3 linked regions of the Homo sapiens genome follow. The protein of the gene in region 1 interacts with the protein of each later gene in a biochemical or structural test. Each region holds a gene or a part of one and is shown in the gene's direction. Other genes may lie near its edges.

Evidence for each region.
Region 2: the proteins of UBE3A (region 1) and UBE2D3 form a complex in vitro, tested with the Homo sapiens proteins (5 studies listed by BioGRID, with this or other methods).
Region 3: the proteins of UBE3A (region 1) and UBE2D2 form a complex in vitro, tested with the Homo sapiens proteins (12 studies listed by BioGRID, with this or other methods).

What each region holds. Positions count from the first base shown.
Region 1 is NC_000015.10:25,436,016-25,442,893, reverse strand, and holds the start of UBE3A (ubiquitin-protein ligase E3A), read left to right. Parts: upstream 1-3,869; 5' UTR 3,870-4,405; intron 4,406-4,569; exon of another isoform or gene 4,570-4,841; intron 4,842-6,878. UniProt on the Homo sapiens protein: E3 ubiquitin-protein ligase which accepts ubiquitin from an E2 ubiquitin-conjugating enzyme in the form of a thioester and transfers it to its substrates.
Region 2 is NC_000004.12:102,817,523-102,824,551, reverse strand, and holds part of UBE2D3 (ubiquitin-conjugating enzyme E2 D3), read left to right. Parts: intron 1-7,029. UniProt on the Homo sapiens protein: Accepts ubiquitin from the E1 complex and catalyzes its covalent attachment to other proteins. In vitro catalyzes 'Lys-11'-, as well as 'Lys-48'-linked polyubiquitination.
Region 3 is NC_000005.10:139,613,339-139,620,367, forward strand, and holds part of UBE2D2 (ubiquitin-conjugating enzyme E2 D2), read left to right. Parts: intron 1-1,247; coding exon 1,248-1,279; intron 1,280-1,358; coding exon 1,359-1,436; intron 1,437-1,522; coding exon 1,523-1,628; intron 1,629-7,029.

The sequences.
Region 1 (6,878 bases):
TGAAGATACTGTGTCTGATGCTTCTGACTGAGATCTGTGTTCAAGATTCAGACTTGATTCCTGACTGAAATAAGTGATAGAAGAGTATACGTAAATGGTACTGTCAAAGATTATAACATGGTAGGCAGAGAACCAAGAATGGGGAGGGAGGATTCTGCACAGGAGACCTGAGAAAGAGTGGCCTAAGACAAGGCAGAAGAGCAGAGAATGTAAGGTGACAGAACCAAGGGAGCAGTTTCCAGGAGGCAGTGGTCAGCAGTGTGGAAGGCTGCAGAGAGATCAGATGTTATGAAAACTGAGAAGCAACCTTTCAATTTGGCCATTATGCCACAGTGAAATTGATACAAGCAATGTATACAGTAAAATGGAGGGAGCTGCTAAATTTCTGTAGTTGAAGAGGAATTTGGAAGGTAATAGCAATCTAAGTATAGACAGCTTTTCTAAATAGAAGGGACAAAGTAGAGGGAGAATTTATGAACAGGAGTGGGAATATTTAAGGGAGTAAGAGTCTTGAGTCAATCTCTCTTCCCTCAAGAAATAAAAATTACCTGTAGAAAGGACAGAAGGATGGCTTCTACCTTAAGACTCGAGGTCAGAAAGAATGCAAATTTAGACAGGTCTGCAGGCATAAGGGTGGGGGTATGTAGGAGTTCATGCCTGATGTGTGCAGTACTAAACAATGATACATATACTACTACTACTACCACTACTAAGCACTAACATTTACTGAGCACTTATCATATGCCAGTGTTCTTCATGGAGCTAAGTTTGCTTAACAGTATTTCTTAAATAATGGGAGCTATTCATATATTGAAAGCTTAGTGTTTTTCAGAAGTTGAGTGTGTAACATTTGGATGTGGCCTAAAAATAGCAACCGTGACTTCTATCCCACCATATCTGAATTTTGTCTCTTCCATGCTCGACTTATTTCTGATCCTGGGGCATGCTGAGTAGTAAAAAAAGTTGTTCTTGCATTTTGATTCATCTGTTATGACTGGCATCAATAAGAAATCTTCAGCAATAAAACAGCTCTGTCAAAAAACAACTTCACCAGCAATTTAGGGCAAAATGTTTCCTTTAAAAAAAAGTTTGTTGGCTGGGCATGGTGGATCATGCCTGTAATCCCAGCACTTTGGGAGGCCGAGGCGGGCGGATCACGAGGTCAGGAGATCGAGCCCATCCTGGCTAACACGGTGAAACCCCGTCTCTACTAAAAATACAAAAAATTAGCCAGGCGTGGTGGCGGGTGCCTGTAGTCCCAGCTACTTGGGAGGCTGAGGCAGGAGAATGGCATGAACCTGGGAGGTGGAGCTTGCAATGAGCCAAGATTGCGCCACTGCACTCCAGCATGGGCGACGGAGCAAGACTCTGTCTCAAAAAAATAATAATAATAATAAAATAAAAAGTTTGTTAGTATTAGCAGATACATATTACTAGGTACCCCCCATGCTCAATGAAGTGTTGGGTTACTCTGAAAAAGTGTCCAATCTTACAGGTGTGACTTCCTCTGGAACTGCAAGTTCTTGAGGGCAGGGATAGAGATTGTTCATCTTTTATTGTTTCCCAAGGTCTGGCACATAAATAGTAGTTCAAGTAGTCCAACATATGACACATAAATAGTTCTGGGTAAACATTAGCTCAAAGTTTGCTCAAGGCATTGATGCAGATGCTTATAAAATTAAATTGCTCTTTTTACTGTATACCTGAAATGAGAAAATTATTAGAAACTACTGGGTCTCATTTGGACTAGAAAAGTCTGAAGAAATCACTGTTCACTTAGTAGATACAAAGTTGTTTTTCTGGGAAAAACACACCTAAAAAAAAAAAAACACATGGGTCTGATATGGGAGAATTTTTTTATTTTTCATATAAACAGGTGTATAGGGAAGTGGAACACTGCTAGTATCTTAAGGATTCCTGAAAGTATTTATGTTGGTAAGTTTGATGAGCAAACATTTCTAAATTTGAAAATGGATAAAACAAAAAGCACAGTGAAATCTTGAAAGAATTCTAATACTAATGTCACACATAAGAATACAGATTTAAAATTAATGAACTAAAACGGATATACGTAATTTCTCCAGGAGGAATTAAGATCCTCCTTGATCTCAGTAAAGCAATGAATAGTCATTCTGACATCTAGCTAAAAGCAGACTTATTTCCCTTCGGTCTTTAATCTTTTTGGAACTCAGGGATTTCCGCCACACTTTGATACACCAGGCCATTATAAAATTACACTTAATTTATTGTCAATTTCTACTTAAAAGGAAGAATACCTATAAGTATCTCCATATGCTAGATATAGTAGAAATGGTATGCTTTAATTAGTCCAACAATAAAGTCCTTAAAGATTTACATTCTTTGTTGCCTATTTTGAAAACTTGCGAAGATAAATTTTTTTAAAGATTATAATTCTTACTAGTCCTTTCCATGAAATATAACAGCAAATAGTTTCCAAATGTGGATGTGTAATGAGAGGAAATGAAAAGTGAGTAAAGAGCTGAGTTAAAACATCTTAAAATCGAATATGGCTTAATACTATCATTATCATCAGTTGTCCTGGAATAACTTAAATTCTTCTAGCTTATTGTTGGTTTTTCAATGGTTGGTTATAGTTGTGAGGCGGATACACACACACACCCACACACTTGGCTATACAAAAAAGATGTTCCGAGACTGACAGTTAAAAATTACACTGCTGGCCGAGCACTGTGGCTCATGCCTGTAGTCCCAAAACTTTGGGAGGCCGAGGTGGGAGGATCACTTGAGGCCAGGAGCTCGAGACCAGCCTGGGCCTAACATAGCAAGACACCATTTCTAAGTTTAAAAATAAAAATAAATTTAAAAAAGATACACTGCTATGTACGACTGTTGATATAAAAAATCTGAATACTAGACATGGGTACTCATCTAGTACTTCAAGGGCTTATCAACAAAGTTGCAAGTTGTAACACTATGAATTGTTAGTGATACTCTTTTGGCTTTGCTAGCAAGTGTTGTAAAGCTATACACACACACACACACACACACACACATACACACACACACCTTTTAAAATGGTGACCCTGGTACCAAATATGACTTTAAATGGATTTAATTTTAATGGCTTTAACTACGTTCAGCTGTCATATGGATCAAAATTAGCCTCTATCCAGCTGGGGTCAACCAGGGAGCCACTTTTCTTAACCGACGACCTACTGAACGTCAACAACTGCAGGAGACGGGACTTTACCTTCGTCTCTGGTAAACTAGTTGACACATCCTGTGTTGGCAAGAGGCCTAAGTAGATGACCTTGGTCCTCTAAAATCTGGCCTGCACTCTCGGGGCACCCCTGCAACATCTACAAAGGCAGCTCCAGATAGAAAAGGGTTGGGGTCGAAAAGCCAATAACGGCAGGCACCTGCCCCGCCTCGGGGCTGGGGGGCTATTCCAGCGGCTTCAGCTAACTTTCAGAGCCATTCGTTTCCCAACAAAGTCTGAGGCGTTCCTCTGCTGGGTACACCAAGGGGCTCTGCAACCCTCCTGGGGGGGGGGGTGCCCAGAGGGCTTCCGGAAGTCCCAGGTTTATTCTTTCGGGTCACAGACAGCAGAAACTAAAAAGAGGGATTACCCTTTCTGTCCAGTCGCAAGATGGCGACCGAGCCTGGTGGGACTCCGAGGGGCCGCAGGCCACCTCCTCTTCCCAATGGCCCGTGCGCCGGCGGCGACGGCAAGCGGGAGGGAGGCGGGGCCGGCGAAGGAAGGAGGGGCGGAGCGCGGCGCCCTCCCGCGCGTCTTGGCCCCGCCCCACGTCCCCGCGTCCCGGCCTGGAGCCCTCGCCCGGCCGGGCGGCGCGCGCTGCCTGCCGGGATACTCGGCCCGCCCAGCCAGTCCTCCCGTCTTGCGCCGCGGCCGCGAGATCCGTGTGTCTCCCAAGATGGTGGCGCTGGGCTCGGGGTGACTACAGGAGACGACGGGGCCTTTTCCCTTCGCCAGGACCCGACACACCAGGCTTCGCTCGCTCGCGCACCCCTCCGCCGCGTAGCCATCCGCCAGCGCGGGCGCCCGCCATCCGCCGCCTACTTACGCTTCACCTCTGCCGACCCGGCGCGCTCGGCTGCGGGCGGCGGCGCCTCCTTCGGCTCCTCCTCGGAATAGCTCGCGGCCTGTAGCCCCTGGCAGGAGGGCCCCTCAGCCCCCCGGTGTGGACAGGCAGCGGCGGCTGGCGACGAACGCCGGGATTTCGGCGGCCCCGGCGCTCCCTTTCCCGGCCTCGTTTTCCGGATAAGGAAGCGCGGGTCCCGCATGAGCCCCGGCGGTGGCGGCAGCGAAAGAGAACGAGGCGGTGGCGGGCGGAGGCGGCGGGCGAGGGCGACTACGACCAGTGAGGCGGCCGCCGCAGCCCAGGCGCGGGGGCGACGACAGGTCAGTGTTGCCGCGGCCTGCGCCAGGCGGCGCTGGCTCCCCTCCGTCACTCGGCCGGCCTTCGGGGCCCGCTGTGGCGAGGTCGACACCCCCCTTCCCCGCCCCCCGCCGCCGAGGCGAGTGTTTGGGGGCGCGTGGTCCGAAGGGGCTGGTGCCAGAAGTAGGCCCCTGGTGGCCGCGGCTGCTGCAGCCGTAACTGTCAGTCCTGGCTGAGCGACGGCGGGAGGGTTTTGTCGCCCGAGGGGACGCGAGCGGGCCCGGGGCGGGGCGGGACGTGCGAGGCGTCGAGATTTGGGCCTCCTAGGAGCCAGGCTCTTCGAGCCAGCCGGGGCCCCAGACAGGGAAGGGCAGGCCCTTTCCTTCAAAGGGGAGCCCTTTCTCGGCGTTTTCAAGGTTTTTGGCTCTCTTGGGGAAGACATATTTAGCCGTGTGCTTGGTGGGTTGGGGTTTTGGGGGTGGATTGATGGGAAGGGAGGGCGGATGAAGTGGTATGTCAAGCCCAAGGGTTGTGCGCACAGGTTACTCTGTGTTACCGGCCACCAGGATTTCTGAAGTTGAACGTGAGTTATTGGCTTTGCCAGAGACTGCTGTGTTATATGCAGACCTGTATGCAAGCAGTTGGCCTTTTTTCCCCCCCCTTTTCAGTGTAGAAAATGAAAAGGATGCTTTCCTCATCTTGGTGGTAAAGGCTTTTGTTGGTAAAGGTAGAATTGAATGTACCAAATGCCTTAGTCCGTAAAATTTTAGAAATAATTTTAATACAGACACTGGTGAAGCTTGGCAACCTTGAAAGAGAATTTAGCGTCTACATTTTTTAAATGACTTTTTATGGATATGCTAAATTAGTAACAGTCCAAAATCTGTTTGAGATTATTAAGTGGCGAGGGTGCTGTTGAAAATGTAAACTAATAGCATATGGGGTTTACAGTGCACAGTTAACCTCAATCATGAAGAAATGTGGATATGACCCGTAATTTTGGATCATTTTACTGCCTGCAATATTGAGAGAAGCAGCAAATTATTACAGTTTTTTTTGGGAGACGACCTAAAGTTTAAGAAATACAACTGTTGAAAGTTACCTGTCAGAGACACAAAGGTACCCAATCAATCTTGTTGAATAAATTGGACAAGTGGGATAAGGTGTTTGTCTCACACTTCTGATCAATAAGTACTCTTACTTAAGAAGTGATTTGGTAAATCATGTAAAATTTAGAATTTAGGAGAGATAAGAAAGTTGTAACTTGGTGTGTATAGTGGAAATAGCTTTGAAATTAGATCCTGTTTTTAAATCCAAGCTACTTACCACATTTTTAGTGAAATGAATACATTATTAATGATGCTACTGATAAGCCCTAAGGATGACCAGAAGCCCTTTTAAGAAACACTAATACAGTTGACCAAAAAATAAAAAAGGAAATAGCTTCAAGAAATAATTTTCAATCTTTGTGTATTTATAATATACACAGGAGAAATAAAAGAACAGAATATGAAGAGGTAACTTATAATCTTTACAAAATTAGAATGTAAACTATGCTAGTCTTACTGTGTCAATATTTATTAACCTGCATTAGTTTGCTAAGTAGTATGCTCACTATCCTCTGGACATTGCCCCTGTCCCTGAGGAGCTTAACTTTATACAGAGATACAAAATACTGTGTTTTGATTTCCTTTCAGAGGATTTATAAGCTACTTATGTTTTATCTGTCCTAAATTCTGCCCTTTTTTTTCCCATGGCTGAAAAAATAACTTCCTAAGAAAGGTACATACTAGTCAGAGGTGTGGGGAAAACGTGTTCTCATCCCACTTGTGCAGTCCATTTAACAGGATTTATTGGGTACCTACAGTGTCTTTGACATGTAACATTTAATCAGTTGTATTTCTTAAACTTTAGATAATTTCTATTTCGATCATTTCTATTTCAATCTCCTCCCTCTCCCCTCCAAAAAAATTTACTGTGTAAACTGTGATAATACACTGTTTCTCTCAGTGTCAGTCAGTGGAATGATCCAGATTTATAGGTCATAGCAAAATTTTTCATCCCAAGCTCTTGAAATGATGTTTCCAAATGTCCATTTTCTTAAATGACTGCTAGTTATGTTCTCCAATCATGTTACACATATTTTGTTTAGACTTATAATTGTGTAGGTCTAAATGTAGAAACATTACATTATGTACATATGCAGCTGCTGAAAGAAAATTAGTTTTCTAATTTTTAGATCGGGGTGAAGACAAACTTTTAGAAGTGATCTTTCGGTAAAATACTGGATGAAGTCTTAGGTGCTCTTTTTATGTTGGTTCAGGACAAAAGTTTTTTGACTGCTTTTTGAGTTTTCCCCTCACTGCCAAATGTAAGGATAAAATGTAGTAACAAGACATCTTGGTATGTATAGTGGTAATATCTTTGGAATTAGACCCTAATTTTAATTCTGGCCTTATTAATCTTGGTAAGCCACAGTTTTGTCATCTGTAAAAT
Region 2 (7,029 bases), on another chromosome or scaffold:
TCTGGGCAAGTTTATGTGCCTCTATAAGAAGGGTATCTGTTGTAATATGAACAATAAATGACTGTGTGCCTAATATGTACCAGGCACTGTTTTAGACATTGGGGTGGCAGCAGTGAACAAAACAAATTTTAAGTTCCTAGATTTGTTTTGACGATTAAATGGATTAATGTGCAAATTTGAACAGGCTCTTGGCACATGACACTCCTAGTTATTACTGCTATTTTAATATCACAATTTATAATTTTTAAAAATCGTTTTTGTTTAAGAACTTTGATTTCTAGTTTAGTACTCTTAGTTAACCAGGTTGTCTCCTTTTGTAAATATTTTGAAGATTTATGTAATATAGACACAACATAAAAACTTGGCATATTGGAAAAACCAGTGTTTATGTGAACATTATTGATTCAACTTACAGAAACTTTGACGTGTGCATGTGGTTTGGTTTTTCAGCTGTTAATGTTAAAATCACATGAGGCAACTTTCAAACATTCCACATCCAACAATTTTAGTGAGTGGACAGCTCTGAACTGGAATGCTCTTCGGTTTAGGCACCTCTTCTAGAAATATGGGGTCAAGTAGCCATTGATGTCAGTATGGTATGCTTGTGTTACGTACCTATTTCGAATTTATTCTTGTCTGAAGGTCCCACATTTCAAGTATTATGATATATCTGTATTCCTCGTTAATATTTTACTGAAATGATTATTGGAATAGTTTTAACCTTTAGTCCATTTGATCGAGCTTTTGAATTTATACTTTGCTTCAGCTGTGTTCTTGGAGTAAGTTTTTTGACTGTTAGACCAATCAACTTTTTTCCTGTATTCTTTATTTGAACGAGCTGTAATATGGTCTTAAATAGGGCTATTAAACAACAGGAGTTAAAAGTGGCACTCCAAGTTGATTGGTATTGAGAGCTGTAGACAATTTTACCACTCCCATTAAACAGGGACTACAATATATGTGTTTTAGGGACGTTTGAAGATAAATATGTGAACCAAGCCTAAAAGAATAGCTCATGTTTTCATTGTATACACCCTGTTAAGTTTTCGTAAGGGTTTTTATTTCTGGAAGTATGACTTTAGTGTTTATATATGATTATAAGCAAGCGGCTAGCAGGGAAACCATGGGTAAAGGGTTAAAAAACTCTCATTTGATCTTCGTTTCCCTCCTACCACCACTTCCACTGAGATAATTTCAAGATTATCTCCATCTCGAAATTGAAAAACTTAGGCATAGAGGTTAAGAAGATGACCCAGGTTCATGTTGTGACAGTTGGGATTAGAACCTAGGCAGCCTGGTCCAGAGTATGTGCTCTTAACAACTACAGTTTGATATCATCCTTTAGTTTTTTTTTGTCATTCAGAACGGTTTACTTTTGCATATAGTATTATCTATTACAGTAGTTAAGACAATGCAGTCTCATCTAAACCCTAACTCATTTAATCCTCAAGACAACCATGTGGGATAGATGTGAGAATTTTATAGATGAAGTAACAGGCTCAGAGAAATAGTCGTCTAGTCACACAACTAGTAAGTGACTGGGATTCAAATCAGATAGGCACCAAAAGCTCAAGCTCTTTTTTGAACCATTTCAATTCCTTTTTTTGTTGTTGTTGGAGACGGAGTCTCACTGTGTTACCCAGGCTGGAGTGCAGTGGCGCGATCTCAGCTCACTGCAAGCTCTGCCTTCTGGGTTCACGCCATTCTCCTGCCTCAGCCTCCTGAGTAGCTGGGACTACAGGCGCCCACCACCACCCCCGGCTAATTTTTTTGTTTTTTTAGTAGAGGCAGGGTTTCACCGTGTTAACCAGGATGGTCTTGATCTCCTGACCTCGTGATCCACCCGCCTCAGCCTCCCAAAGTGCTGGGATTACAGGCGTGAGCCACCACGTGGCCTGGCCCTTCAATTCCTGTTTTATAATGTATGTGATTTTAGTTTGTTACCTGAAATAAGCTGCTTTGCTCTCCCACTTATACATCTAAGTAATTGGGAGTTAGCTTTACTCTTAGGTTATAGCTAATTTGTGAGTTAAGATTTTGGCTAATAATATTTTGAAAGTAGAAGTGGATTTAATTCTTTTGGGGTAGTCTCTTCAAGCACTGAAAACTAACATGTGCCAGTTAACTGCTTAGGATGTCTTAGAGTGAACAAAATATATTTATTGTCCCCAACTAGTATATAGGCTGGGTAAACTGTCTTGCATGTGTTTCATATATGGTCCTCAAAGCTTGTTGATAGCCAGCTCACTTTCTGTGTAGGATAGTTGTGACTGAAGGATGCTGATAATAATAGGACCTCAGTATTTGTTTAATTTGAAAAAGGATGCATTACTGACACTGCATACTTTTCTTTCATCATGCTCATCTGCAGTGTTGATTCTAGTTTTTGTTATTTATACAAATAAAAAGTTGAATGCTCCATCACTGGGATGAACTACTGTGTCACTAGATTGCTCTGTCAAACTTTGCCCCTGAGTTTAGGTGACCCTTTTTATCCAAGACAGGCAATCTTTGAGGATTCTCCACAGCATGTTGCTATAATCTATCTATTAAAAAAGAAACTAGGTTCGTAACACTGAGATAAAAAAATGTTTCAGATTAAAATCTCAAACCTAGGTTGGTTTTTGCATTCTTTTTTTAAATAGCAGTTTTCTTGTATCTGTTAGCGTATAGAAGAGCTTACTGAATATTATATATTGTTGGGTGTGACATGAATTACATTTATATTCCAGAACATTTGGAGTTTTTAAAAAAATTTTGTGGGTACATAGTTGGTGTATATATTTATGGGTTGCATGAAATATTTTGATACAGGTATGCAATGCATAATCACATCAGGGTAAATGGGGTATATACCTCGAGCATTTATCCTTTGTGTTACAATCCAGTTATACTTGTTTACTTATTTTTAAATGTCAGATTGTTTAGAATTTAAAAAAAAAAATACAGCTGCATGGGGGTCTTAGACTTACTAAATCATTTTCCCTGGAAACACATAATTTTGAAAATTTTCTAGGTGATTCTGAAGCTCCTCTCTGATTAAGAACCACAGATACAAGGGAGTAAAGGTCCTAATCTGCATTAGACGTAGTATTCTAGTCCCAGGGAATAAATGAGGAAGATGGTCCTTATCTATGGTAATCTCTGCGTTCAGTGGTGAAAATAAGCATGTAAACACATGAATAGTTGTTTGTCACTTTGTAATTTACCTTTCAAGAATATTAGATCTAGTAGGGGAGGTATTTAAAATAAATTTTCTATACTGTATTTTTTGTACTAGTATTATTACAATGTGATTTGTCTTTTATTATAATGACTTAATTCCCCTTGCCAAAACCAGTATTTTGAAATTAATGAAATAAAACTCTCCATTCTTGGAAATGTTGTGGTCTTGAGCTTGCTACCATAGCAGTGTTATTTCATAATTAAAAATGAATGCATTCACCAAATATCTTACTGCCCAGTTTCTCTTATTAGATAAGATTTATTCAGAATTGTATCCTCAACCTTGTTATGTAGGGAAGGGAAAAGTTTAGGGAAGTATTTTTATACTTTGTTGAAACATCTGATTTTTATCTCCTAATGATACTTTCAACATAATCTATTGTAAAAGAGACCTTCAACTTTTCATAGCTGAATTTGTCGTATTTAAATGTTTGTCAATTGTGAATCATGATTTCTTGTACCTTTTTCAGTATGAAATACTTACATTAATCCTAACCTTGCTGTAATTTCATGGCTAATGTGTAATTGAATGTTTTCTACTACTGGGCAGCTGTTTGGCTGTTAATCTTTGTTTTTTTTGTTTGTTTGTTTGTTTTGTTTGTTTTAATGTCCATAAAACACCCTTCTTGCTTTCATGGAGCAGAGCTTCAAATCTAAATTTGGGTTTCTTTGCCCATTTTTAAATAATGCTTACAAAAGAATGGCTTTGAATAATGTTAAGTGACTTTACCTTCAGTGGTGATCGAAAGAAAATTAGTAATATTCAATCCATTCTTAGTACCTTGTGTAATGAACACGCATGCTTGTTTCACCTATAATTACGACTAAACAGGAAGTTAATACCTTGTCAGTGATGCAGTGAGATACTGTGCAGTGCCTACTGTTAAACCTTAAGATAAAAAAGGATTTCTCAGAAGAAATTTCAAATTAAAATGTGTTTTAAAGGGACTATTTGGAGTTTTGTGAAATTGTTCATATCTTTTTGCCAAGCATCCTTCTCTTGAAATAACCATGTTTCTGAAGTTTGTTGTTCCCTGCCTTGATATTCGCATCTACATATTTTATACAGACATTTCATAACATTAAAGTTAATAAAACTTTATAGTAAACCAGATCTTTATATGAACAGTTACAGTAGTTACTGTCTGCCTGATGGACAGCTAATTGCACTGCACTTCGACCTCTATTGTTGGTTCGCACCTTTGTATTTTTCTAGGTTGGTTGTAAAGTCTTCTTGAGGATGATTCTTAAAATTTCTTAAGGCACTTACTCCCTTTGTTTCCCACCTCATTTTATCATCTCTTCCAGTCCCCAAAGCAGTGTTTTGTGTTGCTCAGTATAGGTTTTTGAGGCAAGGGCTGTTTTTATAATGCTGATTCACAGTCATACAAATCTTGTCTTTTGAGTCATGTAAATCTTGTCTTTAGTTCTGAAAGAAATAGACTCTCAAATAGAATACAAGAAATTAACCTTTAGTAATGGCATAAGCTTTTAGTTTTCCGGAAAGTGCTGAGAGGAAATGTATCTATACTACTGCGTTCTGTCCTCTGTATGACCTTTGTGTGATGACGTGCAAAATAGATGGTAGAGATTGGGATAACAAATGATTTGTGGAACATCGTGGTGATAATTTTACTGTCTTAAAGGTAGAATCCATGAACTTGGCCTTGCCACTATATAGGCTTTTGAATTTTGACAAGCCTTGGGGGGATGAAACCTAGAATAAGTTATTTATGGCGTTACGCTTTAATAGGGTTGACACTTAAAACCTTGTTTTCATAAATGCTACCTTTTGGTTATGTTGATCTGATGAACAGATACTGGCTGTCATTGAAAGAAAGTTAACCGAATGTTCAGATACTTATTGGGCTCCTGGAACATGGCTGCTCTGTAGCTTCATGAATATTCATAATATTCATAAATATTTGTGAATAAATATTTTTAGTATTTCCAATTTATAAGCTCTTTGAAAGGAGGGAATTTTTTTTTTTTTTTTTGAGGCGGAGTCTTGGTCAGCTGCCCAGGCTAGAGTGCAGTGGCGCAACTGCGGCTTACTGCAACCACCGTCTCCTGGGTTCAAGCAATTCTCCTGTCTCAGCCTCTCGAGTAGCTGGGATTACAGGCACCCGCCATCATGCCCGGCTAATTTTTATATTTTAGTAGAGATGGGATTTCACGATGTTGGCCAGGCTGGTCTTGAATTCCTGACCTCAGGTGATCCGCCTGCCTTGGCTTCCCAAAGTGCTAGGATTACAAGCGTGAGCCACCACGCCCAGCAAGGGAGGGGACATTCTTATGTTTCTCCTAGCATCCTTTCAGGTCTTTAATGTTTTCAATACCTTGGCCTACTGTTCTTTGTAGCCTGTGGTTGGTCACCACTGCTAGTACCACTTATCATTGAATGAGGAAGATAGAGAATAGAGAAGCAGAAAGCATAGTTTAACATCTCCAACAATCAACTGTTAAATCCCATATCCCATAGTGACTACAGTAAAGGTCTTCCTCAAGATAAACCATTTGCAGGCTTTGTATTAAAAATCTCATGTAAGGAATGTTTCAGAATAAAAAAAAAAATAGTGACCAAACCCATTACTGCTTAAATCATGTACTTCCAGATGAGAACACTCACCAGTGGCTTAAGCTGTACCTGTTGGTTGCCTTTTAGAGAGATTTTTTTGGTGAAAAAAATCCTGCCCTATTTTCTACCATGGTGCCCACCAGGTCTTCAGGAAATAGGCAAACAACTCAGTTGTGTAAAGTCTGTTGCTGTCTCAAATTTCTTTGTAGTGTTTTAACTAATGAGGCGAACTAGACCATGTGAGAGCTTTGAGAGGGTCTCATTTACCTAGCTTAGAAAGAAGGCAGAGGGGTCTCCTTGACTTCTTTTCCTATAGGTTTTTTAAGGCTTTTAAATACAAGTATTTTTTCCAGTGAGAAGGTCTGGATTCTCACACTAGCCAAGTGTGCAGAAAGTTTGAGGAGAAGCAGCTCAGAGGAAGATGACACTAAAAGGAGAAAGTTTCCTAAAAGAGCACTCTGTGGAAAAGAAATGTCCAACCTTTTGTTCTTTTTATAGCTAGTACAGTTTCTTAGTGTTGTACCCTGATTGTATGTGCTTGATCTTAGTGTCCCTTCAACGTGAGTGGAACCTTGAGCAATTCCTAAAGTAAGTCAGTGTCCCCAACCAAACATTTTCCTGTTTCAGTGGCCTTAATAGTTGAGTAATGCTGTTCCCCTTAGGTGAGGGGTAGTCAGCACAGTATAAAAAAATTTTACAGGTGCCGTGTGAGAGCTGTTCCTTCTGGTTCTTGGCACTGTTCCTCTTCCTCTAGACTGCTAGGAAGGAATAAGCTGAAAATTTCAATTGTGTAATTTTTTAGTGTTTTTGTCCCTGAAGCCTGTGAAACTTTAGGCTCTAAAAACATTTTGTTAGGTGACTATCGTAGACAAAATTACTTTTAAAAATGCTGAGTATGGGTGTCGTTGGAAATTGATTTCCAGTCCAGTAAATAGTCTTGCTGTGGGATAGAATCATTTTCTCAGGCCATGTAACTTGAAAAATAGTACTGGATTCACACTACGTACGAATAATGAGATACAGACTAACGGTGGATGGTTATGCGGAAATAAATACTAAGGAAAACATTAGTTTTCCATATCGTGTTCATTCTGGAGCATTGAGTAATAGTTTGGTGCAGTTGAGAATTTTTTTCCCTCAGTTTGCCAAACATTAAATTATCTTTGCAAGGACACCCTGTTGAGAAAGGAACCTTTTTGAAACTTACCCCTAGTCCAAATTTTTAA
Region 3 (7,029 bases), on another chromosome or scaffold:
CAGTGACAACTTCCCTTAGGTTGCTCAGATCATAGTATGAATGGTAAGTGTGCTAAGTAGTAGCTTAATTATAAGTAAAAACTCTGGCTTTTGATCTCTCATGATGCACTTAGTAGCATGAGAACATGGAACAAGCATCATTTTCTGCATTTGGAAGATATTTATTTATTGAACAAGTTTATAACTTATTAGAAGTATCCCTGGAGCTTGTAATCAACCTTGGGCTTTCAGCTAATATTTTCTTCTTAAATTTTACTCCTTTTTTCTCTTTTTTCCTCTTTAACTTATCCTTTACATTAGGAGAGATGTTTTTCTTTCTTTAATGAGGGCCAGTAATGTACAGACCTACACAAGAGTTTTTAGAAATTTTTTCTCCTTGTTAAAACCAGTCTTTCTTAATTTGAGTATTATCTACCTTGACTTTACTGTTTTGTCCCCCGTATACCAGCATTATAAAAGGAGTCATGCCTGTAATTCCAGCTTTGGGAGGCTGAGGTGGGTGGATCATCTGAGGTCAGGAGTTTGAGACCTGGCCAAACGTGGCAAAACCTTGTCTCTACTAAAAATACAAAAATTAGCCAGGTGTGGTGGCACTTGCCTGTAGTCCCAGCTACTTGGGAGGCTGAGGCAGGAGAATTGCTTGAACCCGGGAGGCGGGGGTTGCAATGAGCCGAAATTGCGCCAGCGCACTCCAGCCTGGGCGATAGAGTGAGACTCTGTCTCAAAAAAAAAAAAAAAAAAAAGTGTATTATATGTAATTGTTTTGAAGAAATGATTTACCCTGTGAGGTAAAGAAATAACTGTTTAAAAGTAGAACTGTAAGCCTTGTCAAGAAGTTTGTCTACCTGACATGAAGTTTCAAGAAGTTTTAGCCCAAATACTTTCGGTTTTTTTTGTTTTTGTTTTTGAGAGAGTCTTGCAGTGGCGCAGTCATGGCTCATTGCAGCCTCCACTTCTCAGGCTCAAGCAGTCCTCTCACCTCAGCTTCTGGAAGTGTTGGGATTACAGGTGTGAGCCACCACACCTGGCTCTAAATATTTTTCATTGAGCACCTTATCAGTGTTCTAGGCCATTCTAGTCATTTTTCTTGTTTCTTTAGACTGTTAATTTATGTTCCTCATCTTGCTCATACTCATTATCATATTATTTATAAATGAATTTGGATTAGAAGGGGAATGATATGTTACTATGGCGTAGATACAATGTAGATATTGTTACATGGTGACTTTTTTCTTGTTATTTTTCAGTGTTCCATTGGCAAGCTACAATAATGGGGCCAGTAAGTATTCAGATTAATTTCAGAATAAACAGTTTATGTAATTTACTCATTTTAATCCCACTTTTCTTGTTATCAACAGAATGACAGTCCCTATCAGGGTGGAGTATTTTTCTTGACAATTCATTTCCCAACAGATTACCCCTTCAAACCACCTAAGGTAATTAATTGGAATGTGGCAGTTTTTAATGTACTTTCTATAATACTAATAAACTAGTTTACAGAAAGTTTCCTTTCTTTCTGTAGGTTGCATTTACAACAAGAATTTATCATCCAAATATTAACAGTAATGGCAGCATTTGTCTTGATATTCTACGATCACAGTGGTCTCCAGCACTAACTATTTCAAAAGGTAACAGTGGGTATTTGATATCAAGATAAAGCAACCGTGTCTTTTGTCTTTTTAGAGTTATTTATTTTTGAAAAGATTACTTATGTTTCTTTTAAGAAGAGATAGCAATTCTTCTTAATCTGAAATGGACCTTGAGAACTGAAAACGAGTTGGATTTTTCAAGCAAAAGTATTCCTTGGTGTAGTGACTAGTCTGTCAGTTGTGCTACTCTAGCATAGGTTAGAAGATGAACACTGGGCCTGGTGCCGTGGCTCATGCCTGTAATCTCAGCACTTTGGGAGGCCGAGGCGGGCAGATCACAAGGTCAGCAGATCGAGACCATCCTGGCTAACATGGTGAAACCCCGTCTCTACTAAAAATACAAAAAAATTAGCTGGGCATGGTGGCAGGTGCCTGTAGTCCCAGCTACTCGGGAGGCTGAGGCAGGAGAATGGTGTGAACCCGGGAGGCAGAGGTTTCAGTGAGCAGAGATTGTGCCACTGCACTCCAGCCTGGGCAACAGAGCGAGACTCTGTCTCAAAAAAAAAAAAGAAGATGGACACTGGTATGAATGTTTTTTTAGAGCATAAAGTAGAGCACAATTAACATCTCTTCCAACCTTGAGATTCATGAATGGAAAAAGATAGATACTATTGCAGAATAGGAAATAGACCAGCCCTTTAGACAAATGCCTATGCTGTAAACATAGACGTTAGGTTCTTGAAGAACAAAATATAGGTAAATATTTTACCAGCTCTTGTCTTTAGGTTTCTGTATCAATGAACTGAGTGATGTAGTTGTTGTCTTAATGTGTTGATTTGAAATTGTACAACCCTTCAACATTATTCCCAGATGAAATCACAGTTGCGTTACAATAATCTAGATTTTTTTTTTTTTTTTTTTTTTTTGAGATGGAGTCTCACTCTGTCGCCCAGGCTAGACTGCAGTGGTGCAATCTTGGCTCATTGAAACCTCCACCTCCCGGGTTCAAGCAATTCTCCTGCCTCAGCCTCCCTTGTAGCTGGGATTACAGGCACCCGCCACCACGCCTAGCTAATTTTTGTATTTTTAGTAGAGACTGGGTTTCGCCATGTTGGCCAGGCTGGTCTCGAACGCCTGACCTTATGATCCACCTGCCTCGGCCTCCCAAAGCGCTGGGATTACAGGCATGAGCCACCGTGCCCAGCCAAATAATCTAGAATTTATAAAGGAAAACAAAAACAAGTATTTATGGCCTGGCACGGTGGCTCACGCCTGTAATCCCAGCACTTTGGGAGGCCGAGGCAGGAGAATCGCTTGAACCCAGGAGGCGGAGGTTGCAGTGAGCTGAGATTGCGCCACTGCACTCCAGCCTGGCCAGCCTGGGGGACAGAGCGAGACTCCGTCTCAAAAACAAGAATATTTATCAGATCTCACTGCTGTACTCTGAAAGGTGATAAAAGAGTTCACTGGATGTACTTTTGTGAAAATGAAATCAGTTGTTTAAGAGAAAAATCAAATATGGTAATGGATTAATATGTTTAAAATATGAAGTACAAAAATCAGAAAAAAATTCAGATCCCAATAGATGAATGGACACAGGGGAACCAAAGAATAAATAAATGAATGTTACGTTCCTATTTTTTACCTTTTTAATTAACAAAGATATTTTTAAAAGAAGACAAAACACTAATGAGGTACATTGAAATGAACACTCATATTCTTCAAGTAGAGGTATAGATTTGTAGAGCCCAGTCTGCCAGTATGTGTTAAGAGACTTAATCATCCATGCCCATTCACCCAATAATTCTAGTTTCATTTATTTATACTAAGAAAACAATCCCAAATGCTGAAAAAACTTTGTATACAAGTACATTTGTGACATTGTGATTTAGTTCTGAAAATTGGAGGTTACTTACAGTAGAGGAAAAAATAGATCGGTTCCAGCACATGCATTTAAAAGAGTATTGACCCTGGCCAGGCATAGTGGTTCATGCCTGTAATCCCAGAACTTTATGAGGCTGAGATGGGCAGATGACTTGAGACCAGGAGTTCGAGACCAGCTTGGCCAACATGGCAAAACCCCATCTTTACTAAAAATACAAAAAATTAGCCAGGTGTGATGGTGCGTGCCTGTAGTCCCAACTACTCAGGAGGCTGAGGCGGGAGAATCACTTGAACCCGGGAGACGGAGGTTGCAGTGAGTCAAGATGGTACCATTGCACTCTAGCCTGGGTGACAGAGGGAGACTTTGTCTCCAAAAAAAAAAAAGTATTGATCTTTACAAATATTGTGAAAATAGGAAAATACTGTGCTTGAGAAAAGCAGAAAAAAGAAAAAAGGCATATACACTGTAACAAGAGTTACATATAAAAGTATGTTGAGTGTCCAGAAATAGACAAGCAATGTTAGTTTTGGTATTTGTGTGGTGAAATGTGGTGTGTGATTTTTTTTTTTTTTTTTTTTTTTGAGAGGGAGTTTCGCTCTTGTTGCCCAGGCTGGAGTGCAATGGTGTGATCTTGACTGACTGCAACCTCCGCCTCCCGGGTTCAAGCAATTCTCCTGCCTCAGCCTCCCAAGTAGCTGGGATTACAGGCACCCACCACCACGCCTGGCTAATTTTTGTATTTTTAGTAGAAATTATCTGCTTATAATTTACCATTTGAACCATTAAGTAGAAATTATCTGCTTATAATTTACCATTTGTTTAATGCATGTATTTAGACAGGAAGCAACATAGTTTCATGGTAAAGAACATAGATTCTAGATCCAATTGCCTGTGTTCAGATCTCAGATCCACCTCTTATTAAATGAGGCTAGAGACACATTGGCCCCTGTATTCCTCAGTTTTTTCATCTGTAGAAAAGGAACAATAATACATATTTCATTGTTGTTACGAAGATTAAAGAAGCAAAAACAGACAGTTAACTGGTTCCTTGTAAGTACTCCAAAAACTGGGGATAAAGGCACAGTTGTCAAAAGTGTTGGGTATTTGTCATGTTATCACTTGGATGTCAAGACTCAATCTTAAAAAAAAATTATTATTATTATTATTTGTTTTTTTTTGAGAAGGAGTTTCACTTTTGTTGCCCAGGCTGGAGTGCAGTGGCGCAATCTCGGCTCACCACAACCTCCACCTCCCGGGTTCAAGCCATTCTCCTGCCTCAGCCTTCTGAGCAGCTGGGATTATAGGGCATGTACCACCACGCCCAGATAATTTTGTATTTTTAGTAGAGACGGAGTTTCTCCATGTTGGTCAGGCTGGTCTCGAACTCCCAACCTCAGGTGATCCGCCCGCCTCAGCCTCCCAAAGTGCTGGGATTACAGGTGTGAGCCACTGCTCCTGGCCACAAATTAATTTTTTAAAGCAAACAAAACTCTGAGACATTAATTTAAAATTTTTGGAGTCCCAGGCAGAAATAAAAACAGGATGCCAGAGAACCACATTTTTTTAAAGTTATTACAACTTTAATGAAATAGTTTTTTAGAGAAGTGTCCCCTTTTCTTTTGGTAGGCCCCCTTACAATTCAAGAGCTACTTGAGAAAGTGTTTGTGGACCTGTGCCTGGCCTGGTGAGGGTCCCATTGGTTGCACTTCCTTCACCAAATAGCAATAGAGATGTAAATCTAGTAATGGGACCAAGATAAGTAGAATTGTGTGAGAGGTGTGTGTTTGGTGGGGTGAGGTGTTGGAGACACAAGATAGCTGAAATTATTGCCATACCTCTTTTTGTTCTTCCCCTTGCCTAGCGTTGATTTTTTTTCAGCTATTCCAAATGATAAGGACTGTTACAAGTCTGATTTGTTAGGTTCTCTCTATCTGGATAGCTATCCTTTAAAATAGTTGCAGTGCCATTTTGTTGAATTTGATTGTATTAACTGTCTCAGATTTAAGGTTTTAATGAGTCCCTTTTTGTAAATTGAATGTATGGGCAAGTAGTTCTATGAAATGCCTTAATCCTGTATATGATATTATTCCTTTAACATATAGTCTGTCTTCAAGGACAGAAATTTTGACCCAGTATTCACTCTACTTTGAAGGTCCGTGATGGGGACCTAAATATTTAAAAAACAAAAACAAAAACACTGAAAAAAACTGAAGGGAAGCAGATAAGTGTGCCATAAAGCCATTTGATTATATGTTTTTAGAAGTGAAAGTAACTGTTGCTGTAACACTAGTGAAAAAGTAATACTGGCCAGGCGCAGTGGCTCATGACTGTAATCCACTTTGAGAGGCCAAGGAAGGTGGATCACTTGAGGTCAGGAGTTTAAGAACAGCCTGGCCAACATAGTGAAACCTGATTTCTACCAATAATACAAAAATTAGCAGGGCAGGGTGGTGTGTGTCTATAGTCCCAACTACTCGGGAGGCTGAGGCACAAGAATCACTTGAACCTGGGAGGGAGAGGTTGCAGTGAGCCAACATCACACCACTGTGCTCCAGCCTGGGCAACAGAGCAAGAGTCTGTCTCAAAAAAAAAAAAAAAGTAATACTGATGAAGAATATATATAGGTAAAAGTTCAGTGAAGAGACTATACAGGTTATAGAAATAAGAGTTACTATCTTTACAGAAGAAGGTATAGTATATGTATCAGTCCATTCTTGCACTGCTATAAAGAAATACCTGAGACTGGATAATTTATAAAGAAAAGGGTTTTGCCAGGTGCGGTGGCTCACTCTTGTAATCCCAGCACTTTGGGAGGCCGAGATGCGCAGATCACTGAGGTCGGGAGTTTGAGACCAGCCTGACCAACATGGAGAAACCCCATCTCTACCAAAAATACAAAAATTAGCCTGGCTTGGTGGTGCATGCCTGTAATCCCAGCTACTTGGGAGGCTGAGGCGGGAGAATCGCTTGAACCCGGGAGGCGGAGGTTGCAGGAAGCTGGGATCGCGCCATTGCACTCCAGCCTGGGCAACAAGAGTGAAACTCCGTCTCAAAAAAAAAGGAGGTTTAATTGGCTCACAGTTCTGTGGGCTATACAGAAAGCATGGCAGCATCTGCTTCTGCGGAGTCCTCGGGAGCTTTTACTCATGGCAGAAGGCAAAGGGGGAGCCACCTGTCTCACATGGCAGTAGCAGGACCAAGAGAGAGATGGGGGAGGTGCCACACACTGTTAAACAGCCAGATCTCATGAGAACTCTATCACAAGAACAGCACCAAAGGGGTCGTGCTAAACCATTCATGAAGGATACACCCCCATAATCCAGTCGCCTCCCACCAGGCCCCACCTCCAACGTTGGGGATTACAGTTGAACATGAGATTTGTGTGGGGACACAGATCCAAACCATATCAGTATATTAGAAACCAAAATGAATTCTTCATGAAATCAAGAAGCTAAGTAGTGTACTAAAAATCTTTTCACAAGGTCCAGATAGCCAGTACTCTCCTTTCCTGGAAAGAAAGAAAAGCCCTTTCTTTAAAACCTGTCCTTTAAAGTT